Homo sapiens: one gene and its partner. The protein of the gene in region 1 interacts with the protein of each later gene in a pairwise test. Each region holds a gene or a part of one and is shown on either strand. Other genes may lie near its edges. The genes, in order: ELOVL7 and LRCH4.

Evidence for each region.
Region 2: the proteins of ELOVL7 (region 1) and LRCH4 interact in binary tests that used the Homo sapiens proteins (3 or more experiments, as listed by UniProt).

The regions. Positions count from the first base shown.
Region 1 is NC_000005.10:60,769,839-60,780,193, reverse strand, and holds part of ELOVL7 (very long chain fatty acid elongase 7), read left to right. Parts: intron 1-8,100; coding exon 8,101-8,291; intron 8,292-10,355. UniProt on the Homo sapiens protein: Catalyzes the first and rate-limiting reaction of the four reactions that constitute the long-chain fatty acids elongation cycle.
Region 2 is NC_000007.14:100,581,567-100,592,619, forward strand, and holds the start of LRCH4 (leucine-rich repeat and calponin homology domain-containing protein 4), read right to left. Parts: upstream 4,564-11,053; 5' UTR 4,535-4,563; coding exon 4,315-4,534; intron 894-4,314; coding exon 749-893; intron 602-748; coding exon 475-601; intron 317-474; coding exon 211-316; intron 1-210. Other genes in the region: FBXO24 (F-box only protein 24), read left to right, coding at 8,075-8,227, 8,411-8,509, 8,608-8,791, 10,101-10,336. UniProt on the Homo sapiens protein: Accessory protein that regulates signaling by multiple TLRs, acting as a broad-spanning regulator of the innate immune response. In macrophages, binds LPS and promotes proper docking of LPS in lipid raft membrane. May be required for lipid raft maintenance.

The DNA of each region.
Region 1 (10,355 bases):
GAGCCGAGATCGTACCGTTGCACTCCAGCCTGGGCAACAAGAACGAAACTACATCTAAAAAAAAAAAAAAAAAAAAAAAGGGAAAGTTTGGAACTTACTAGAGACTTGTTGAATAACTTTGACCACAATGCTGATAGTGATATGGACAATGAAGGTCAGGCTGAGGTGGTCTCAGATGGAGATGAGGAATTTATTGGGAACTGGAATAAATAACACTATGCTTTAGAAAAAAGACTGGCAGCATTTTGCCCCTGCCCTAGAGATCTGTGAAACTTTTAACTTGAGAGAGATAATTTAGGGTATCTGGCAGAAGAAATTTCTAAGTGGCAAAGCATTCAAGAGGAAGGACCATAAAAGTTTGGAAAATTTGCAGCCTGATGATGCGATAGAAAAGAAAATACAATTTTCTAGGGTGAAATTCAAGCCTGCTGCAGAAATTTGCATAAGTAGCAGGAGCTGAATGTTAGTCACCAAGACAATGGGGAAAATGTCTCCAGAGTATGTCAGAGACCTTGGCAGCAGCCCCTCCCGTCACAGACCTGGAGGCCTAGGAGGAAAACATGGTTTTTGGGGCTGGGCCCAGGGCTCCCTGCTGTGTGCAGCCTAGGGACTTGATGCCCTGCATTCCAGCTGCTCCTGGAATGGCTAAAAAGGGCCAAGGTGCAGCTTGGGCCATGGCTTCAGAGGGTGCAGGCCCCAAGCTTTGGCAGCTTCTCCATGGTGTTGAGCCTGTGAATGCACAGAAGTCAAGAATTGAGGTTTGGGAACCTCTACCTAGATTTCAGAGGATGTATTGAAACTCCTGGATGTCCAGGCCGAAGTTTGCTGCAGAGGTAGAGCCCTCATGGAGAGCCTCTACTAGGTCAATGTGGAAGAGAAATGTGGGGTCAGACCCCAAACACCTAGTCCCCACTTGGGCAGTGCCTAGTGGAGCTGTGAGAAGAGGGCCACCATCCTCCAGACCCCAAAATGCTAGATCCATTGACAGCTTGCACTGTGCACCTGGAGAAGCCACAGACAGTCAGTTCCAGCCAGTGAAAGCAGCAGGAAAGGGGGCTGTACCCTGCAAAGCCACAGAGGCAGAGCTGCCCAAGGCCATGGGAGCCCACCTCTTGCACCAGTATGACCTAGATGTGAGACGTGGAGTCAAAGGTGATCATTGTGGAGCATTGAGATTTAATGACTGCCCTACTGGATTTTGGACTTGCATGGGGCCTGTAGCTCCTTTGTTTTGGCCAATTTCTGCCATTTGGAATGGGTATATTTATGCAGTGCCTGTATCCCCATTGTATCTGGAAAATAACTAACTTGCTTTTGATTTTACAGGCTCATAGGCAGAAGGGACTTGCCTTGTCTCAGATGAGACTTTGGATTTGGACTTTGAGTTAAAGCTGGAATGCATTAAGACTTTTGGGGATTGTTCGGAAGGCATGATTGTGTTTTGAAATGTGAGGACATGAGATTTGGGAGGGCCCAGGGACAGAATGATATGGTTTGACTGTATCCCCACCCAAATTTCATCTTGAATTATAGTTCCTATAATCCCCACATGTTATGGAGGGACCTAGTGGGAGATAAGTGAATCATGGGTACAGTTTCCCTGTGCTGTTCTCATGATTGTTTCTCACAAGAGCTGATGGTTTTATAATTGTCTGGCATTTCCCCTGCTGGCACTCATTCTCTCTCCTGCCACTTCATGAAGAGGTGCCTTCTGCTGTGATTGTAAGTTTCCTGACGTCTCCCAGGCCATGCAGAACTGTGAGTCAATTAAACCTCTTTCCTTGATAAATTACCCAGTCTCGGGTATTTCTTCATAGCAGTGCATGAGTGGACTAATACAATGATGTTCATGTATTTAAGGTTTGCACTACCCACTTATAGAAGAAATCTATCAAAGTTTGATCAGTTCTAATTTTTTCCCTTGGTCCCTGGTTCTGTGACAACTTTTATTTATGGAGACTTCCTTTGTGACATACAGACCCATAGCAAGCCTTCCTTGTGGTGGTTTTAATTGCACAAAACAACGAGACATCCTAGAAAGCTTGCCATTGTTAAAAGCAAGGAGGGGAACCAATAGAAGCAGTAAAAGATTTCAGTGATGTGTACCTGGGTAGCTGATTTCAAAGTTTTTCCTGATTTAGAACTGTGACAAATCTTAATATGAGAAAATACTTCCGAAATTATAGAACTTTATGTTTTGAAAAGTGTCTGTCATCAAACTTTTGTTTAATTTCTATTTTGTGCATGACACCTTGTTAAAATTATTCTGCTGAGAGCATCAGAGACGTCCTTTTGTTAAATGTAGTGGCATTTTTCTGTCCCCATTTTATTTCCCCTTTCTGCCACACTTAATGCTTTGACTCCTTCCGAAAATCCACTCTTCCCTGGCTTCAGGATATCTCACTTTTATGGTTTTCCCTCTACTTCTCTAGCTGTTCCTTTTTGGTTTTTATGTTTTTTCCTTCAGTAATTCCTTCTGTGAATGCTGAGTCCTCAGGATCCTGACTTCAGCACTTACTCTCCTTACTGTACCCACTTAGCCTAAGCCAATCTCACTGCTTTTATTGTTCATCATTTATGTGATGGCAACCCTCAATCTTATATCTCTGGCACAGATCTCTCTCCTAATTCTAGATCCATATATCCAGCTGCTTATGAAAGACTTCATATGAATGTTTTAAAGGCAGTCTAAGTGTAAGATGTTTTAAAACATAAGCCACCTCTGCTTGACCAATATTGCTCCTAATCCTGTGTTCCCAATCTAAGTGAATTTAAAGATCTGAGTATTTTTCTTTTAAAAATTTTTTTTTTAATTTTTGCGGGTAAATAGTAGGTGTATATATTTATGGAATACATAAGATGTTTTGATACAGGCATGCAATATGTAATAATTATATCATGTAAAATGGGGGTATCCATCCCCTCAAGCATTTATCCTTTGGGTTACAAATAATCCAATTATATTTTAAAACATACATTTAAATTATTATTGACTATAAGTCAGCCTGTCGTGCCACCAAATACTAGGTCTTATTCATTCTATTTTCTTTGTACCCATTAGCTATTCCCACCTCCCCCCCAACCCCCCTAGTACCCTTCCTAGCCTCTGGCAACCACCCTTCTACTCTATCTCCATGGACTTAATTGTTTTGATTCTTACATCCCACATATAAGTGAGAAATCTGAATATTTTTCTTAACATTTACCTATTTCCATTCCCTGTGTTTAACCAATTATAAATTTTTATATTTTCTTCTTCCTTACTGTATTTCAAAATAATCTCCTATTTATCTGTCACTATCACTACCTGTTTTTAAAATTTTTATTTTAGATTCAGGTGGTACACGTGCAAGTTTATAACTAGGCTATATTGTCTGATGCTGAGGTTTGGGCTTCTAGTGATTGCATCATGAATATAGTGAACATAGTACTTAAAAGTATGTTTTTCAGCCCTTGTCCCCTTCCTTCCCTCCCACATTTTGGATTCTTCAGTCTGTTGTTCCCATCTATACCTGCATGTACCCAAGACTTAGCTCCCACTTATAAGTGAGAACATGTAGCATTTGGTTTTGCATTTCTGTGTTCATTTGCTTAGGATAATGGTCTCCAACTACGTTCATGTTGCTGCAAAGGATATGATTTTGTTCTTTTTAATGACTGCATAGTACTCCACAGTATATATGTACCACATTTTCTTTATCCAATCCACCATTAATGGGCACCTAGGTTGATTACATGTCTTTGCTGTTATGAATAGTCCTGCAGTGAACATGCAAGTGTATGTATATTTTTGGCATTTTCCTTTCAGTATGTACCTAATAGTGGAATTGCTGGGTTGAATAATAGTTCTATTTGCAGTTTTTTGAGAAATCTCCAAACTGCTTTCCACAATGGCTGAACTAATTTGCATTTCCACCAACAGTGTATAAGCATTCCCTTTTCTCCACAGCCTCAACAACTTCTGTAATTATTTGACTTTTTAATGTTTGTTGGCCGCTTGTATGTCTTCTTTTGTGAAGTGTCTGTTCATGCTCTTTGCCCACTTTTTAATGAAGTTATTTATTTTTTCTTGTTGATTTAAGTTTCTTGTGGATTCTGGATATTAGTCCTGTTGGATGCATAGTTTGTGTTTTCTCCCAGTCCATAGGTTGTCTGTTTACTCTGTTAGTTTCTTTTGCTGTGCAAAAGCTCTTTAGTTTAATTAGGTCTTAATTGTTGATTTTTATTTGTGTTGCAATTGCTTTTGAGGACTTGGTCATAAAGCCTTTGCCAAGGCCAGTGTCCAGAAGAGTGTTTCCTAGGTTAGGTTTTCTCCTGGGATTTTTATAGTTTTAGGTCTTGCATTTAAGTCTTTAATCCATCTTAAGTTAATTTTTGTGTATGGTGGTAGGTAGTGGTCCAGTTTCAGTCTTCTGCATATGATTAGCCAGTTTTCCTAGCACCATCTATTGAATAGGGAGTCCTTTCCCCATTGCTTATTTTCATTGACTTTGTTGAATATCAGTTGGTTTTAGGTATGCTCCTTTATTTCTGGGTTTTCTGTTCAGTTCCATTGGCCGATGTGTCTATTTTTATATCAATACCATGCTGTTTTGGTTACTGTAGCCGTGTAGTACAGTTTGAAGTAAGATAATGTGATGCCTCCAGCTTTGTTCTTTTTGCTTAAGATTGCTTTGGCTATTTGGGCTCATTTTTGGTTTTCTATGAATTTGAGAATAGTTTTTTCTAATTTTGTAAAAAATAACATTGGTAATTTGATAGGAATAGCATTGAATCTTTAGATTGTTTTGAACAGTATGGACATCTAACAATGTTGATTTTTCTAATCCATGAGCATGGAATGTTTTTCCATTTGTATTTTCCATGATTTCTTTCAGCAGTGTTTTGTAATGCTCCTTGTACAGATCTTTTACTTCCTTGGTTAGATGTATTCCTATGTGTTTTATTTTTTGTGCTTGTGGTTATTGTAAATAGGATTGCATTCTTGATTTGGCTGTCAGCTTGAGGGTTGAAGAGCTGTTCCAAGCTCTTAAGGATAATGCTTTGGTGCATAGAAATGCTACTGATTTTCATACATTGATTTTGTATCCTGTAACTTTACTGAATTCATTTATCAAATATAAGAGTTTTGGCTGGGTGTGGTGGCTCATGCCTGTAATCCCAGCACTTTGGGAGGCCAACGTGGGCAGATCACGAGGTCAGGAGTTTGAGACCAGCCTGGCCAACAAGGTGAAACCCTGTCTCTACTAAAAATACAAAAATTAGCTGGGCATGGTGGCGGGCACCTGTAATCCCAGCTCCTCAGGAGACTGAGGCAGGAGATTCACTTGAACCCAGGAGGCAGAGGTTGCAGTGAACCAAGATCATGCCATTGCATTCCAGCCTGGGCGACAAGAGCAAGACTCCGTCTCAAAAAAAAAAAAAAAAAAGAGAGTTTTATGGTGGAGTTGGTAGGTTTTTCTAGGTAGAAGATCATATCATCAGCAAGCAGGGATAATTTTACTTCCTCTTTTCCAATTTTGATGCCTTTTATTTCTTTCTCTTGCCTGATTGCTCTGGCTAGGACTTCTAGTACTATGTTGAATAGGAGTGGGCATCCTTGTCTTGTTGCAGCTCTTAAAGATAATACTTCCAGCGTTTGCCCATTAGGTATGATGTTGGCTGTGGGTTTGTCATAGATGGCCCTTATTATTTGAGGTATGTTCCTTTAATGTCTAGTTTGTTGAGGGTTTTTATCATGAATAGATGTTAGATTTTATTGAAAACTTTTTCTGCATCTATTGGGATAATCATATGGTTTTTGTTTTTAATTCTGTTTATGTGGTGAGTCACATTTATTGACTTGAATATGTTGAACCAACTTTGCAGCTCAGGAATAAAGCCCACTTAATCGTGGTGAATTAACTTTTTGATGTGTTCCTGGATTCACCTGGCTAGTTTGTTGAGGATTTTTGCATCTATGTTCATGAGAGATATTGGCCTGTAGTTTTCTTTTTTGTCATTGTTGTTGTTGTTGGTGTGTCTTTGCCAGATTTTGGTGTCAGGATGATACTGGTTTCATAGAATGAGTTAGGGAGGAATCTCTCCTCCTCAATTTTTTGGAATAGTTTCAGTAGGATTGGTACTAGCTCTTCTTTGTATGTCTGACCACCTACTCTTCAGTCATTTAATTTATAAATTTATTTTAGTGTTCCACAGAACATTAGTTTCATAAGATGTTAAATAACATTCTACAAAAAAAATAGTGTTTTTTGGCCAAATACGTTTGGAGAATATGGCATACTGCCATTCCCATCGTGGCAATTCATGATGAACATGAAGCATTAAGAAATCCTGCAGTAATGCAACCTGTTTGTTTAACCCAGCATTCCAGTATTCCCCAATTCTTTGTGGAAAGTCTTTAAATAGCTTGTTTCCATGCATAGTTTGGAATATTCTTGTTTGTATAGGATATAAGATAAGAAACAAACTCATTTTTCTCCCAAGCAGTCAGTTTTCCTATCAACATTTGTTGAAGATCTCTTCCTTCCCTGCTTGTTTCTGGGACTTCCTTAATCATATATTAAATTCTTAAATGTCCTGGGATCTAGTCTGGAGCTGACTCTTGACTCTTTGGCTTTATTTCTTTATTTTTTTTGAGAGGGGCCTCTGCCAGTATTTTTGAGGGAGGCTTATTTGAATGCAGAATAATCACCCATGCACATCTGATAGTCAAATGTAAGCACTCCAGCACTAAAATTGAGGCCAAGTGAGTTATCAGTCATAGAGTCCTACTGAAGAAATTTTGAGTGGGAAGTCACACTTGCAGGGGTATTCAGAATTTGTCAGTGCTTGGCCACATCATTAGCAGCTTAAAAGAGCAAGAGCTACATTCTCCCTACCCTTCTTTTCCAATTGATAAAAGTGACAGTAGTTAGCATCCTGAGGTTAGTCATGGCATAATTTTGAGTCAGGTCCTTCTGGGAACTTGTCCTTACTTCCTTTCCTTCATAATACTCTAGCTTCATGAGGCCATTTAGTAAAATTAAACCTGAACTACTAGAAATTATAGACTTAATCACATTTCATCCTGAGTTGTAATTTTTTATTCATCCATCTCTGCTGGCCTGGAGCTGGCAGTAAGCAGATAAGTTTTTGTTTGCAATTGTGAGACCGTGCATTTTTTTTGCTCAGAATATCACAGTTGTTAGCTCACATGGACTCCAAAATCCCATACTTTAGCTACTTAGAGGATGTTCAGCCTTTCTATTCTGTGATCCTGTGATACAGTATATGTGGAAGTGTGCCAGTTTTCCTGGGGAAGGAAAAAAATTAAGCAGCAAACACAAACTTTTTTTAATATATAAAAGCATGTATGGATGGAAAAACTCCAAGATATTAATAATGACTATAGACACATGGTGGGATGTTGCTGGGTGTTCTCTCTTCCAGATAGCTTTGCACCCTGTGCTGGGCCCTGGAGAACGATCCATGAAGACTGTATCCTTGGGTTTGCTCCCCTGCCGTATGCTTTCTGGTTAGATTCAGCCAGTGGAGAGAGGGAGGAGAGTGGAGTTGGGGTATCTATTCCTCTGGCGCCATACTTACAGAATTGTCTTGGGCTGGCTGAATCCCTCAACTGACAGTCAAAACTTGTCTTAGCATACTCAGGATGCTTAAGAAATTATCATAGACTGGGTAGTTTATAAGCAGTGGAAATTTATTTCTCACATTCAGAGGGTGGAAGTCTGAGATCAGGGTGCCAGCACGGTCGGGTACTAGTGAGGACCCTCTTCCAGGTTGCAGACTGCCATCTTCTCATTGTATCCTTACATGGGGAAAGAGGGCAGGAGAGCTCCCTGGGGTGCCTTTTATAAGGGCACTAATACCATCATGCAGGCGATCAGTGCATAATACAGCTCCTCTCCCACTGTTTCTAGCCCCAGGATACTTCCTTATTCCTGTTGATTTCTTTTTCACCTTTCTAAAGATACTAGTGATCACTGCCCAAATAGCTCACAGTTAATAGTAGGATCTGGGTGCTCAGTTAAAGAAATGTTGGTTGCTGTTAGTTACCCCTTGGCTAAGCAGGTGTGTACTCACATATTGTTTTTCTCTTAGATCCAAGAGTTGAAGATTGGCTCCTCATGTCCTCGCCTCTGCCACAAACCATCCTCCTAGGATTCTATGTCTATTTTGTCACTTCCTTGGGACCAAAGCTCATGGAAAATCGCAAGCCCTTTGAACTCAAGAAAGCAATGATAACGTACAATTTTTTCATAGTACTCTTTTCTGTGTATATGTGTTATGAGGCAAGTGTCTTCAGTATTCCTAATGGGAGAATTTTGCCTGAGTTTTTCTGTTTATGTGTCATTATGTTTTCTGTTATAAGGGTAAACTTTGCAATTTAAGGAATTAAGAAACTGATCTCACTAGAGCAGGTATTTGCCAAAATAGTGTTAGGTATAGACCAAATAATAAACTCATTTGAGGATCTCAGTATAATCTGTCTCACAGATAATGAGAAAAACTAACATCTATTCCATGGATTTGTACATAATTGCCTTAATGGATTATTGAATTAATCCATAAATTTTAGTTTTGAGGAAACTCTTAAAGTAACATAGCTGGTAAGTGGAGGGCTGATATTTGAACCCAGGTCTGTCTGACATCAGAGTTCATCTTGACTCAGTAAAAAGTTGTCATCATCATGGTAGGCACCTTTGGTTTCTGGATACTCTGATGAACTATGGGATGGTAGACTGTTTTGGTTAGTTTAGCTGGGCTTTGTGGGGACAGAGAGCATAGACTCATATAAAGCAGTAGGTGAGGGAGCCTGTTCCTTAATTTTTTTCCCATTAACTCATTAATTCATTACTGTCCCTTAATTGTTAATAAGAGAGATGGGGCTCTTCCAGGACCCTAAAACAGATTCATGAATTCTCTCTCTTCCCCTGTGCTATTAACATGCCTCAGCCACCCCCATGTATGTTCTTTTCTGAGATTCCTTCCTTCTTTTCCAACTCTGGCTGGCTTCATTATCCTTTTTTATTAACTTCCTCTATAGCATAACTGGTGCTTAATCATAAGTAGGGCTCACGAGGGCCCAATATGGGCCCACTGACCTCTCCTGGCACCATAGTTTCTCCACATGCATTCTGACCTGACTCTTGCTACAGATCCATCATATCGATCACTTTAAATCTACTGTGGCTGGCCAGGTGTGGTGGCCTACACCTGTAATCCCAGCACTTTGGTAGGCTGAAGTAAGAGGATTGCTTGGGCCCAGGAGTTTGAGACCAGCCTGGACAACATAGGGAGACCTTGTGTCTACAAAAAATACAAAAAAATTAGCCAGGCGTGGCGGTGCACGCCCGTGGTCCCAGCTGCTTGGGAGGCTGAGGTGAGAGGATCACTTGAGCCTGGGAGGTCAAGGCTGCAATGAGCCGTGATCATGTCTAGTGACGGAGCAAGACCCTGTCTCAAAAAATAAAAATAAAAAAAATACTCTGGCCTTATTTCTCACAGTCCTCCCTATAGTCTGGACTCACTCTGCTGCTTTCCATTTCTTCTATTTTATTTTGAAAATTAACTCACAGGCCACTCTTAATGTCCCTTCAGGAGTATGAGCAACTGAGAGGAAAAGAGTGATAGAGATGGGAGCAAAGAAAACACAAGGTCCTAGCATGGTCTTAGGGGACAGCATGTTGTAGTAAGGTGTTAAGAACATACCTGGAAGCCAGGAGATTAGGAACTAGTTAGTTCTGCTTCTGCCACTGACTGGCTGCCTGAATTTTAGCAAGTTATTTAACCTCTCTGGGCCTCAGTTCTCTCGTTTTATAAAGATAGGATTGAACCAAATAGTCTCTCAGATCCCTCCTTGCTCTCATATTCTTAGGGTCTATGTCTGATTTGTCATTGAGTGTAATGTACCCAAATATATTTCTCAGGCTTGGAAAGAATCCAGTCATCGCCAGTCAGCTTTGATTCCTACTTGATCAATTACAATGTAAAAGAAGATTTTAAAATATCTGAATTTGAGAGTTTCTGACTCTCATTTACTGCTAATACTTGAGTTACTTATGTGTCAGTTTCAGGAACTACCTGCCAAATATAAATTATTACTTTCTGAATTCAGGGAATTCTTTTTTTTTTTTTTTTCACCAGAAAGGGTCTCGCTCTGTCACCCAAGCTGGAGTGCAGTGGCACGATCTTGGCTCACTGCAGCCTTGACCTCCCAGGCTCAAGTGATCCTCCCACCTCAGCCTCCCAAGTAGCTGAGACTACAGGCATGCGCCACTATGTCTAGCTAATTTTTTGTATTTTTTGTAGAGATGGTGTTTTGCCATGTTTCCCAGACTGCTCTCAAACTCCTA
Region 2 (11,053 bases), on another chromosome or scaffold:
CAAGGAGCCGGCAGTCTGCAGCCAGGAAAAGCACCCTGCCAGAAGCTGACCATGGAAGCACCCAGATCCTGAACTTCAGCTTCCAGAACTGTGAAAAATGAATGCCTGCCATGTATAAGCTACCCGGTCTGCAGTGTTTTCGTTACCGCAGCCTGAGCCAACTGGGACGCACATACAAACACCTCCTCTCCAGTTCTTCATTCTTCTCACCTTCGGGCAGCGTACTGAGCTGGTTCCTCCGGACATTGAGGTCCCGCAGGGAAGAGAGGCCACACAGTTCCGAGGGCAGGGATTGGAGCTCGTTGCTGCTCACGTCCTGGTATCAGGAAGGCAGTGGGAAGGGGCCATGAGACCAGGCCCAGCAGAACCCACCCTCCCATCTCTGTCTTTGCTCCAGGCCCTCCCCAACCTCCCCCTAGAAGGTCCCGCTGCCTGGCTCAGGGGTCCCTTTCCTGGTCCCGTCCCCATCCTCACAAGCTGTCGCAGGCTTCCCAGGGTGCCGATGTCAGGGGGCAGGGCTCCCAGCTTGTTGTTGCTGACGATGAGGACCCTCAGGGGCAGCTGGCAGATGTAGGGTGGCAGCAGCGACAGCTGGTTTCGGCTGTGGAAGGGAGAAAGGCAGCGGACTGGCTCCCCAGGCATGGCATCCCAGCACTGCCATCCTCTCGGGGTCACTGGGTGGGTCACTCAGTAGTACTTGAGACTGAGAAGCACACGCTCCCACGTGGCCCTGGCTCGGCCTCCCTACCTGAGGTTGAGGTAGGTGAGGGCTGTGAGATTCCCCAAGGCTGGGTTCAGGCATCTCAGGCAATTGTGGTAGAGGCTCAGGCCCTCCAGGGACACCAGCTGGCACGCCGCCTCGGGCACCTCGGGAAACCGGTTCCGGGACAGGTCTGGGGAAAAGGAGGTGTCGGGGAGAGTTGCGGAAAGGCCCAGCCCGGACAGGACCTTCAGTCCCCCCAGAGCCGGCTGCCCACTCCCTCACCTCCACACCTAAAGATTCAAGGCCATCAATGTGGCCTCCCAGGAGAGATAACAAAGCCTTCTGCCAACGGGAGCACATTCCAGGCGTGACCAGAATGGCACAGGGAAGGCAAAGGCCTTAGCGTCACTGGGCTAGAGAAGCCTCAGACTTGGGGGTTGGGGAATGTCAATGGAGGGCTATCCTGGAGAGCAGCTGGAATCTCTAACTCCTGTGGTTCCTGTTCAGAGATGCCAGGTGAGGCGGAGGACCGAAGGTGAGAGGAGGGGTCAGTGCTCATGGGAAAACAGTAAGGCGAGGGGCTGGGGGGCTCCCGGAGGGAAGATGGGAAACCCCTGGGGCAAACCACAGGGAGTGCCCATCCCTCCTCGGGGCCCTTCTTCCCTACTCCAGTGTGTTTTCAACACGGGAAAAACCACAGGTCACTCTATCTTGGTTCTAGAGATAAAGTCCCCGACACCGGACGAGTTTTTCGCCAGCCCCAAGGACCAGCAAGCCAGGTCCAAAGAATCATAAAGTTACTGATTCCCAAGGGCTGGGAGGGAAGGGCAAGAAGACCTGGTTGGAGATGGGAGCTGGAGTTCCCAGGTCCCTCCCATCTGGGCTTCTCTGGCCCAGGGCAGGCATCCTTCCTACCCTCTGCTAGCCCTAGCAGCCCGGCTCTGCTTCCTCTCTTACTGACACAGACTTCAAGAGATCAGCAACTGTGTGAGCATCTCAGGCACGGCGAGGGTGGAGAGTGTGGGAGGGCCTGGGGTCTACAATCGCCCTCTTATCTGGAGCACTGCCTTGCTATGCGGAGGCTGGCAGCCTTGGGATTCCCTGTAGCACGGACCCACTAACGGCTTAGACCTGGAGAAGCCTGCCTTTCTGTTTCCTCGGCCCAGCCTGTCCTGGGAGGGGCCCAGGGCCCGCGAGGCGGAGTCCCAGGCCACAGACCTGGTGAGCTTCTCCAAGGGCCCTTCTCAGGGAAGGGCAGGCCAGCAAAAGCAAGCAGAGGAGAGAAGCCGGGTATATCCCCCAAGGAAATGAGTCTTGTGACAGGAAATGAAGTAGAAACAATCTGTCAGGTTCTGGCTCTGGTAGGCCCCGTGTTTACCAGGGTGGATGACAGCCTGATGCCCCGGGACCCCTTTCTCTTCCTCTCTGCCCAGCCCTGGTGCACAGACAGAAGCCCTGGCCTCAGAGATGACCGTTCTGGAGAGGGTGGGGGGATGGCATTTGCCCCTCCCAGCCTCGCCTCCACCTGCCCGCTTTCTCTGCAAATGTGTTTGTGTGTGTGCATGTGGACGAAGGGGGTGGAGACCGAGTTCTCAGAGTTCTGATGGGGTAGGCGGTGGCGGGGACAAAAGCTAGGAGCGGAAGGGAGCTCAGGCAGGAGGCAGGGCACTGGGGGCACAGGATGTGGTCTGGGAGAGAATGAGCTGCACTTCTCCTTTGCAAGATGGCCCCTCCCCGCCACCTCAGGATTCTTCCTACTATCACCCCAGGGAGCCTAGTCCAAGGGAGATCAGGGACCCAAGACTAGGCGACACGCAGCGAAGACACTCAGAAAGAGATGGGAGACGGGAGGGGAAGGCTCAAGGCAGTCCGGGCAGCAAGGCACTGATGCTTTTCGTCTGCTTGGAGGGCGAGGAGAGATGGAGGGCAGGGTATGGGCAACTGTATGTTTTTGTCACTTCCCCTTTCTGTCCCTGCTTGCGGAGAGGGGACAGAGGAGAGAATTCTGGACAAGAGGGACCCCACTTGGCCTAGAACCTGGGCCCTGTGTAGAGAGTGGGGCAGAGGAGGGTTCTTGGGAAGCTGGGATTTCCGACCCCCCCCCAAGCTCACAGGAGCACGGCTGCACCCTGAGCCGGAATGCTGGGGGAGGAGGGGGCCGGGGGCGGGAGCTGGGAGGGGCCGGGGAGCTCCGGGTAGTTTTCCCCAAGAGTCCACACAGGGAGAGACAGCCTAAGGAAGTAAAGAATAACATTTGGTCTTTGTCAAAAAACAACCAAGGGGGAGGGGAAGGGAACAGACAGTGAGTGTCACACAGCTGCTGAGGTCAATCTGGAGTGTGGGGTTAGGTGGGGGTGGGAGGGAACAGGGCTGTAAGGGGCAGGAATGGCTCCTGGAGCTCACTCATTCCCCATCTCAAGTGTTGCAGAGCAGGCGAGATCAGTGGGGAGGTTTCGACTGGTTCTCCCCAGAAGAGGGAAGAGGATGTGTGCCAGTGCCGGCCTGAGTGTTCCCAGGTGAGCAGGCACCTGCTTAGGGAGAAGTAAGCACTATCCTCCAGCTCTGGTCCCCCACCGTGCAGATGAGAGGAGGAAGAGGCCTGGGCTGGGGTGAGGCTTCGGGAATGCAGTCCTCCTCCCTGATCCTGATCCCCACCCCCAGCTGCCGGCCCAAGGTCATAGGCTGCCTCCTGAGTAGCTGAGGCTTGACTCACCTGTCACAGTTAAGTCCCCCACCCCCTACCATCCACAGACACCAGGGTGGAGGGTGCATGGTTGGACAGATCCTGCGGGTGGAGGCGTGGAAGGACAGTCTCTAGCTGGCCAGCACTCCCAGCTAGGAGATAAGATTTCCTTCCCTCCAGCAACGGCCTCAAGTCCCTCCCCCGGGGGAAAGCAGAAACTGAAATGGGAATTCTAAGATCCCTATGAGGTCACAGGCTCCACAGTGACCTCACAGGCTTAGGAAGGAGGAGGAGGAATCTCAGATAAGCCGGTTGGGGATAATAGGCGGAAGAGCTCAGGGAGAAAAGAGTGAGGGGAGGTAGAGATTTGTTTCTTTCCCATAGGCTGGAGAGCTGCGTGGACAGTGGAGAGGGCCAGGACCTTAGGGGGCGGGGTTGCGGCACAGAAAGCAGAAACCTCGGGCTTAGGGGCCAGTCACTGGGAAGGGGGTGCCCGGGGCTGCTCGGATCTCGGTGGGACGGGGGTTAAGAGGTGTAGATGAAGAGGGAGAGAAAGCAGTTATTAGAGGAGCTCGTGGGGACTGCTTCATAGACCGATTGGAGCTGAGGTTAAGAGATCATGTAAATAAGCCAACCAGGTGAGGGGCGGGACCATCCTACAGGTGCGCAGATATGCAAATAAAGAGAAAGGAGGAATCTCTCCCAACGCTCGGAGGCGCAGGGCGTTCTGTGCAAACGAGAAGCACGTTCATTGTCTAGGGGGTTCTCAAAGATGGGAGAGGATGGCTGCAGGTTTAGGGCAATCAGGAGGGGCAGCAACCCTGGCCGCCAGGTGAAGGGGCGGGCCCGACTCCCGGGCCGGGCGGGGCCCGGGGTGGGGCTATGCAAATGAGGGACCCGGTTGGGCCCGGGGCCCGGCTGCACTCACCAGCCTGGGTGATGTCTGACAGGTCGTAGCTACGGGCCGCGCCCCGGGGGAAGTGCTTCAAGCGCCGGTTAGACAGGTTCAGGGTCCCGGTGGCCACGGCCTCCTCTAGGGCCCGCTCTGCACTGCGTCTCCCCGGCAGACCTGGAGACCCGGGCACGGAGGTCGTGGCTGCCGCCTCCTCACCCCCGGCGGCGAGTGGAGCCGCTACGGCCGCCGCCATCCGCTCCCGGCGGCTCCCGCTGCCTGACTGACGGGACCGGCCGTCCCTCCTTCCCCCACCCCCTCCTTGGAGCCGCCGTAGTTGCCTCAAGGGGGAGGGAGCGGTGTCCGGGACCGGACGGACCAATCGTGGCCCCGAGACGCGTCAGAAGCGGCCAATCAGAACCCGTCAGTGGGGGTGGAGCTCCGGCGCCGGAGTCTGACGAGAGAAGGGAGGGGAACAAGGATAGAGCGCTCGCCAACGGCCGACGCTCCAGGCCGTCCCGCCCAGCGCAGCTGCACCCAATCACAATGCTCAGATCGGGAGGTGGAGCCAATCAGGTCCAACCAAGAGGAGGGGACACCGGCACTCCACTAGCAGGAAAACGGGCCGAGGGACCGCAAGCAGGGGGTGCCTAGTCCTCGTCCCCCAAAGACCAATCGTAAGCCAGATACAGGCGAGTGACTGTCAAGAAGGCCAATTAGAGCCTCCGAAGGGAATCTGGACCTGCCTCTTCTCTGAGGGACGGCTCTACCTACCAATAGCATGGGCGAGAAGGCGGTCCCTTTGCTAAGGAGGAGGCGGGTGAGCTAGAACTTTAAGACTGAGGTTAAGAATGAACGCGGAGCCCCTGGCCGGCCGGGAACGCAGTTCGCCGCTGCAGTGGCGAGTGCGAGCTGGACGTGTTAGGGGGCTAGCCGGCGTCCAGGGCTTGAGGGGATTCGGGCGACTGCTTGAGGCCAGTGCACTGGCGGTTGTCGCAGCTGAAGGGGCAGCGGGGGGACCTCCGACTGTGAAGCCTCTGGCAGGGGTCTCGGGACCCCCGGGCTGGGGGCGGGCGGGGGGCTTCCCAGAGCCTGGAGATGCCCAGCTCGAGGAGGGAGGGTGTAGGTGCAGCGTTGCACGGTCTGCCGTCTCACCCGAGGAGCTCCCCTGGACAGGAATGGAGAGGGGACCAGACCACGGGGTTTTAGAGGCTTAGAAAGGATCTCACCGCCTAGAACACGCCCTTGGTGCTACGAATGCAGAAACTGAGGCAGAGGGAAGTTGATGCGTTAGCAAGAGCGAACAGCAAGTTCCTGACAGCTGGCTTGCTCTAGAAACCAGGTCTCTGGATCCTCCACGCACAGCCCTTTCCCGCTCCCTCAGTTTTCACAGTGGATGTTTTCACTCCCTTCCTCTCTTCCTCCCTCCCTCCCTCTCCCTTCCGTTCCCTTCCTCTTTTTATTTTTTTATTTTTTGAGATGGAGTCTCGCTCAGTCGCCCAGGCTGGAGTGCAGTGGCGCGATCTCGGCTCACAGCAACCTCCACTGTCCGGGTTCAAGCAATTCTCCTGCCTCAGCCTCCCGAGTAGCTGGGACTACAGGCGCCCGCCACCACACCCGGCTAATTTTTTGTATTTTAGTAGAGACGGGGTTTCACCGTGTTGCCCAGGCTGGTCGCAAACTCAGGAGCTCAGGCAATATGCCCTCCTCGGCCTCCCAAAGTGCTGGCATTACAGGCGTGAGCCACCGCGCCCGGCCTTTTTTTTTTTTTTTTTAAGAAGGTCTGATTCTGTCGCCCAGGCTGGAGTGCAGTGGTGCAGTCATGGCTCACTGCAGCCTTGAATGCCTGGGCTCAAGTGATCCTCCTGCCTCAGCCTCCCAAGTAGCTGGGACCACGGGCGGCACCACTGCACCTGGCTAATTTATTTTCAATTTTTGTAGAGATGGGGTTTTGCTATGTTGCCCAGGCTGGTCTCAAACTTTTGACCTCAAGCGATCCTGCCTCTGCCTCCCAAAGTACTGGGATCACAGGCGTGAGCCACCGCACCCGGCCCACAGTGGACTTTTTCTTTCTTTTGAGACAGAGTCGCTCTGTTGCCCAGGCTGGAGTGCAGTGGCTTGATCGCAGCTCACTGCAGCCTCAACCTCCCACCTCAGCCTCCCGAGTAACTGGGACTACAAGCACGCACCACCATGCCAGCTAATTGTATTTTTTGTAGAGACAGGGTCCTACTATGTTGCCCAGGCTGATCTCAAACTCCTGGGCTCAAGCAATGCTCCCACCTCGGCCTCCCGAAGTGCTGGGATTATAAGCGTGAGCCACAAAGCCTGGCCCACAGTGGACTTTTTCTATTCACAACCTCTCGTTTGCCTCCTGGGGTGAAATGGAGTGGATAAAGGGGACCCAAATGCAAGAGGAATGGAAAATACCTTTCTGTCTACTTGGAGATCTTCCTTTCTAAGTGGCATGAGTCCCTAATGCAGTCCCCTCCCTATGTGGTAGGTTGCCCAGAAATAAGTCACTGAAGTTGCTTTCTCCTTAGTTCACATCTCAGAGGTTGATATTCCTGAGTAGTTGCTGAAGAATTAAAATTCCATCTCAGGCATCCCAGCCTAGCCATGGCTAGGCACCATACATAAGGGAATTTGGGTGGTCAGTCTGGTGCAGTCAATGAACGGATCTGTGACACTGTGTGGTGAGGGCTGGTGGTCTGGCAGGATGGGACTCCTTTGAGCCCCTGCAAGAGCCAGCCACTCCTTGGATTTATTGGTGTAGATCTGGCCTGAGTGGGACAGACACAACCCTGACCCCTGCTGTTTCTCCTGATAAATGTCACCCCACATAAGACAAAGCTAATATCAGAGACCCTGGGAGAAATCCTAAGCTTTCAGAGGAAATCCATCCCTTTCTCCCACCTTAATAGGTTGTCCTTTATACATGCAATGATGTTACTGTCCCTCAGGAAAGCAAAAGCAGTCTTCTTTTTTGTTTGTTTTTTTTGAAACTGGGTATCATTCTCGCCCGGGCTGGAGTGCAGTGGCACGATCATAGCTCACTGCTGCCTCAAACTGGGCTCAAGCAATCCTCCTGCCTCAGCCTCCTGTGTAGCTGGGACTACAGGGGTGCATCACCACGCCTGGGTAATTTTTAAGTTTTTTTTTTTTTTTAATAGACGCAGGGTCTATGTTGACCAGGCTGGTCTTGAAACCCATGGCCTCAAGCCATCCTTGCACCATGGCCACCCAAAAGTGCTGGGATTTCGGGCGTTAGCCACCGGCACCAGGCTGCAGTCTCCTTTTGGATGTGTTTTTTCACAAGTCTAAAGAGTTTGCTGAATCATTTGTGAGCTAAACGATTATTAGCACAGTCACCTCTCCATCTCACCTGTCAAACTGAGTTTATAGTTTTTTGAGTCTATACTCTTGAGCTACCAATCCCTAGAGGCCTTGGCCTGCTGAAATGTGAGGAATTCACTAGTGTTTCTCTACAGAGTTAGTGCTAAAAGGGCCTCAAATAGGAAAACTTCCTCCTGCTCCCTGAAATAAAGATGTCACCTACCAGTAATTCACACTTTATTTCTCCAGTAAAATGCATATCCCTTGAGCCATGTGATGGCTAGAACTGAGCTAGAACCCAGGAGCTGTCTAAGAGATGGGTCCTGGGCAAGATTAAAGGGAACAGGTCACAGTGGCCAAACAGTGAGGTCACAGAGAGGTTTGTTAGCCCCAGACTCCATGGGGGAGGGGCCTAGGAGGCAGAGGGGCCTCAGAGGTCCCCCAAGCCTAGGCTGGGGACATGGTGTGGGAAAGCCAGCAGGAACGGGGGGGCCAAGGGCCTAGGAGACAGGAGGGCAGGAGCAGGGAGGGGGCAATCAGGATGGTCAGGGGAAGCCAGAGACGGAAGCTGCAAAAATTCACCAGGCTGTGTGGACGGGAGGAGGGGCTCCGGGTGAGGGGGATTGGCCGCAGGAGATCGGGAGGAGTTATTTGGAGAAGTTAGGGATGGGTCTGGAGAGAGAGGGGAGGAAATAACTGTGCCCAGCTAGAGTCAGATGAGCCCCAAGGTAGGCGGAGAGAAGGGAAAAAAGGATGTGGGACCCTCATGGGACCCTATGCACCCCTTCTTGGGTAGGTGAAGAGAAGCTGCCCTTCTTGTGGCTCGGAGCTTGGGGTTGAAGAGAAGAGGGGGAAAGGAAATCCGATTTCCATCCAGTTGTTCCCCCCAGAGCTGGTGAGTCCTTGGGGAGGGGGATTGAGAATAATAGGATTGGGGGCCAGATCACCGAGGGGCCACCAAAGACTCCCCGCTTCTTCCCTCCTCCCTCCCAGGTGGAGCATATCATCTCATTCCTCCCAGTCAGAGACCTTGTTGCCCTCGGCCAGACCTGCCGCTACTTCCACGAAGTGTGCGATGGGGAAGGCGTGTGGAGACGCATCTGTCGCAGACTCAGTCCGCGCCTCCAAGATCAGGGTTCTGGAGTCCGGCCCTGGAAGAGAGCTGCCATTCTGAACTGTACACCTTCCCCAGAACCTCCCGTTCTCCTTGCCTCTGTCCCGCCTTAGCCTTCCTGCTCTCTAAAGTCCCCTGATGACCCCCACACTCCCAACAGTGCTTCCAGGGCCCCTTTCTCCGGAAGAAACGGGTCCAGTTCAAACATTCTCCCTTGAGTACTTCCTCCAAGTCTTCGGAATCCACCCACAGCCCCCGTTAGCGGCCTCCCTGCCAAGTCTCCCTCTGTACACAGACACTTCCCGCTTTTTCCCTAGAGGCATCCCTCACTCCCCAAACCTGGAGTTTTCCCTCCTCTAACCCAAGGCTTCTGAACTCACTGTTGATATTCTGGGCAAAATAATTCCTTGATGTGGGGAGCTGTCCTCTGCATGGTGGGATGTTTAAGCAGCAACCCTGGCCTCCACCCACCAGATGGCCAGCAGCATCCCCCTTAATTGTGACAACCAATGCCCTTGAAGGACAAAATCACCCCTAGCCTGAGAACCATGCCATAAACCCTCTTCCCCTCCAGGGATCCCCCAGGGTGTACTTCTTACACTCACTGGGAGATTAAAAGAGAAGGGGGACCCAGAAAACAGATCCAAAGCTAGGGGTGAGGGAGGATGACCGGCCTTCATCAATCATTCCTTTTCACTCCTGTTTCTGTCTCTTCTCTTTTCTTTCTTTTTCTTTGATTTTTTTTTTTTTTTTTTTTTTTTGAGACAGGGTCTTGCTCTGTCACCCAGGCTGGAGCACAGTGGTGCAATCTTGGCTCAATGCAACCTCCACCTCCCGGGTTCAAGTATTCTCGTGCCTCAGCCTCCTGAGTAGCTGGGATTACAGGCTCCCGCCACCACACCCGGATAATTTTTGTATTTTTAGTAGAGATGGGGTTTTGCCACGTTGCCCAGGCTGGTCTCAAACTCCTGGGCTCCCAAAGTGCTGGGATTACAGGCGTGCAAAAATTCACTGAGCTGTGAGGATGGGAGGAGGGGCTCAGGGTGAGGGGGGTGGATGCCGCACGCAGCCTCTGTGTCTTTATTCTTAGAGTTTTCCTCAACATCACTGATGCAAGGTTGCACCAAAGAACTGCTCACTAAGAAGCAAATGTTTGACCCTGGGCTGAGGTGGGGTGGAGACTAAAGTTCACATGTCGAGTATAATCTAAGCTTATTTTCCACATCTCCTTCATAAGGGGTCTGTTTGTTCCCCTGTCCTGGGGATGGGGAGGAACTACAAACCAGCGTGTCTAAGAAATCTACCCAAGCTCCAACTCATCTCCCTCGTGTCATCTCATCCCTTGAACCTTCCATCTCCTTCCTTCCTCCAGACACGAAGGGCCTGTATTTCCAGGCATTTGGAGGCCGCCGCCGATGTCTCAGCAAGAGCGTGGCCCCCTTGCTAGCCCACGGCTACCGCCGCTTCTTGCCCACCAAGGATCACGTCTTCATTCTTGACTACGTGGGGACCCTCTTCTTCCTCAAAAATGCCCTGGTCTCCACCCTCGGCCAGATGCAGTGGAAGCGGGCCTGTCGCTATGTTGTGTTGTGTCGTGGAGCCAAGGATGTGAGTAGCAGAACCCTGGCAGCTGAGAGCCCACCTGTATTAGTCCATTTTCACACTGCTATAAAGACGTACCAGAGGCCGGGTGCAGTGGCTTACACCTGTAATCCTAGCACTTTGGGAGGCTGAGGCAGGCGGATCAGCTGAGACCAGGAGTTCGAGACCAGCCTGGCCAAATGGCGAAACCCGTCTCTACTAAAAATACAAAAATTAGCTGGGTGTGGTGGTGGGTGCCTATAATTCCAGCTACTTGGGAGGCTGAGGCAGGAGAATTGCTTGAACTTGGGAGGCAGAGGCTGCAGTGAGCTGAGATCGCACCCTTGCACTCCAGCCTGGGCAACAAGAGGGAGACTCCGTCTCGAAAAAAAAAGACATACCTGAGACCGGGTAATTTATAAGGCAAAGAGGTTTAATTGACTCATAGTTCCACATGACTGGGGAGGCCTCAGGAAACTTACAATCATGGCAGAAGGGAAAGAGGCACGTCTTACATGGCAGCAGGCGAGAGCACACAAGCAAGAGCAGGGAAAACTGCCTTATAAATCCGTCAGACCTCGTGAGAACCCACTATCACGAAAACAACATGGGGGAAATTGCCCCCGTGAGCCAATCACCTCCCACTGGGTATTACAATTCGAGATGAGATTTGGGTGGGGGCACAGAGCCTAACCATATCACCACCTCTCTTTTGAGGACCCAGGCCCCCATCAGTCTTGAGGT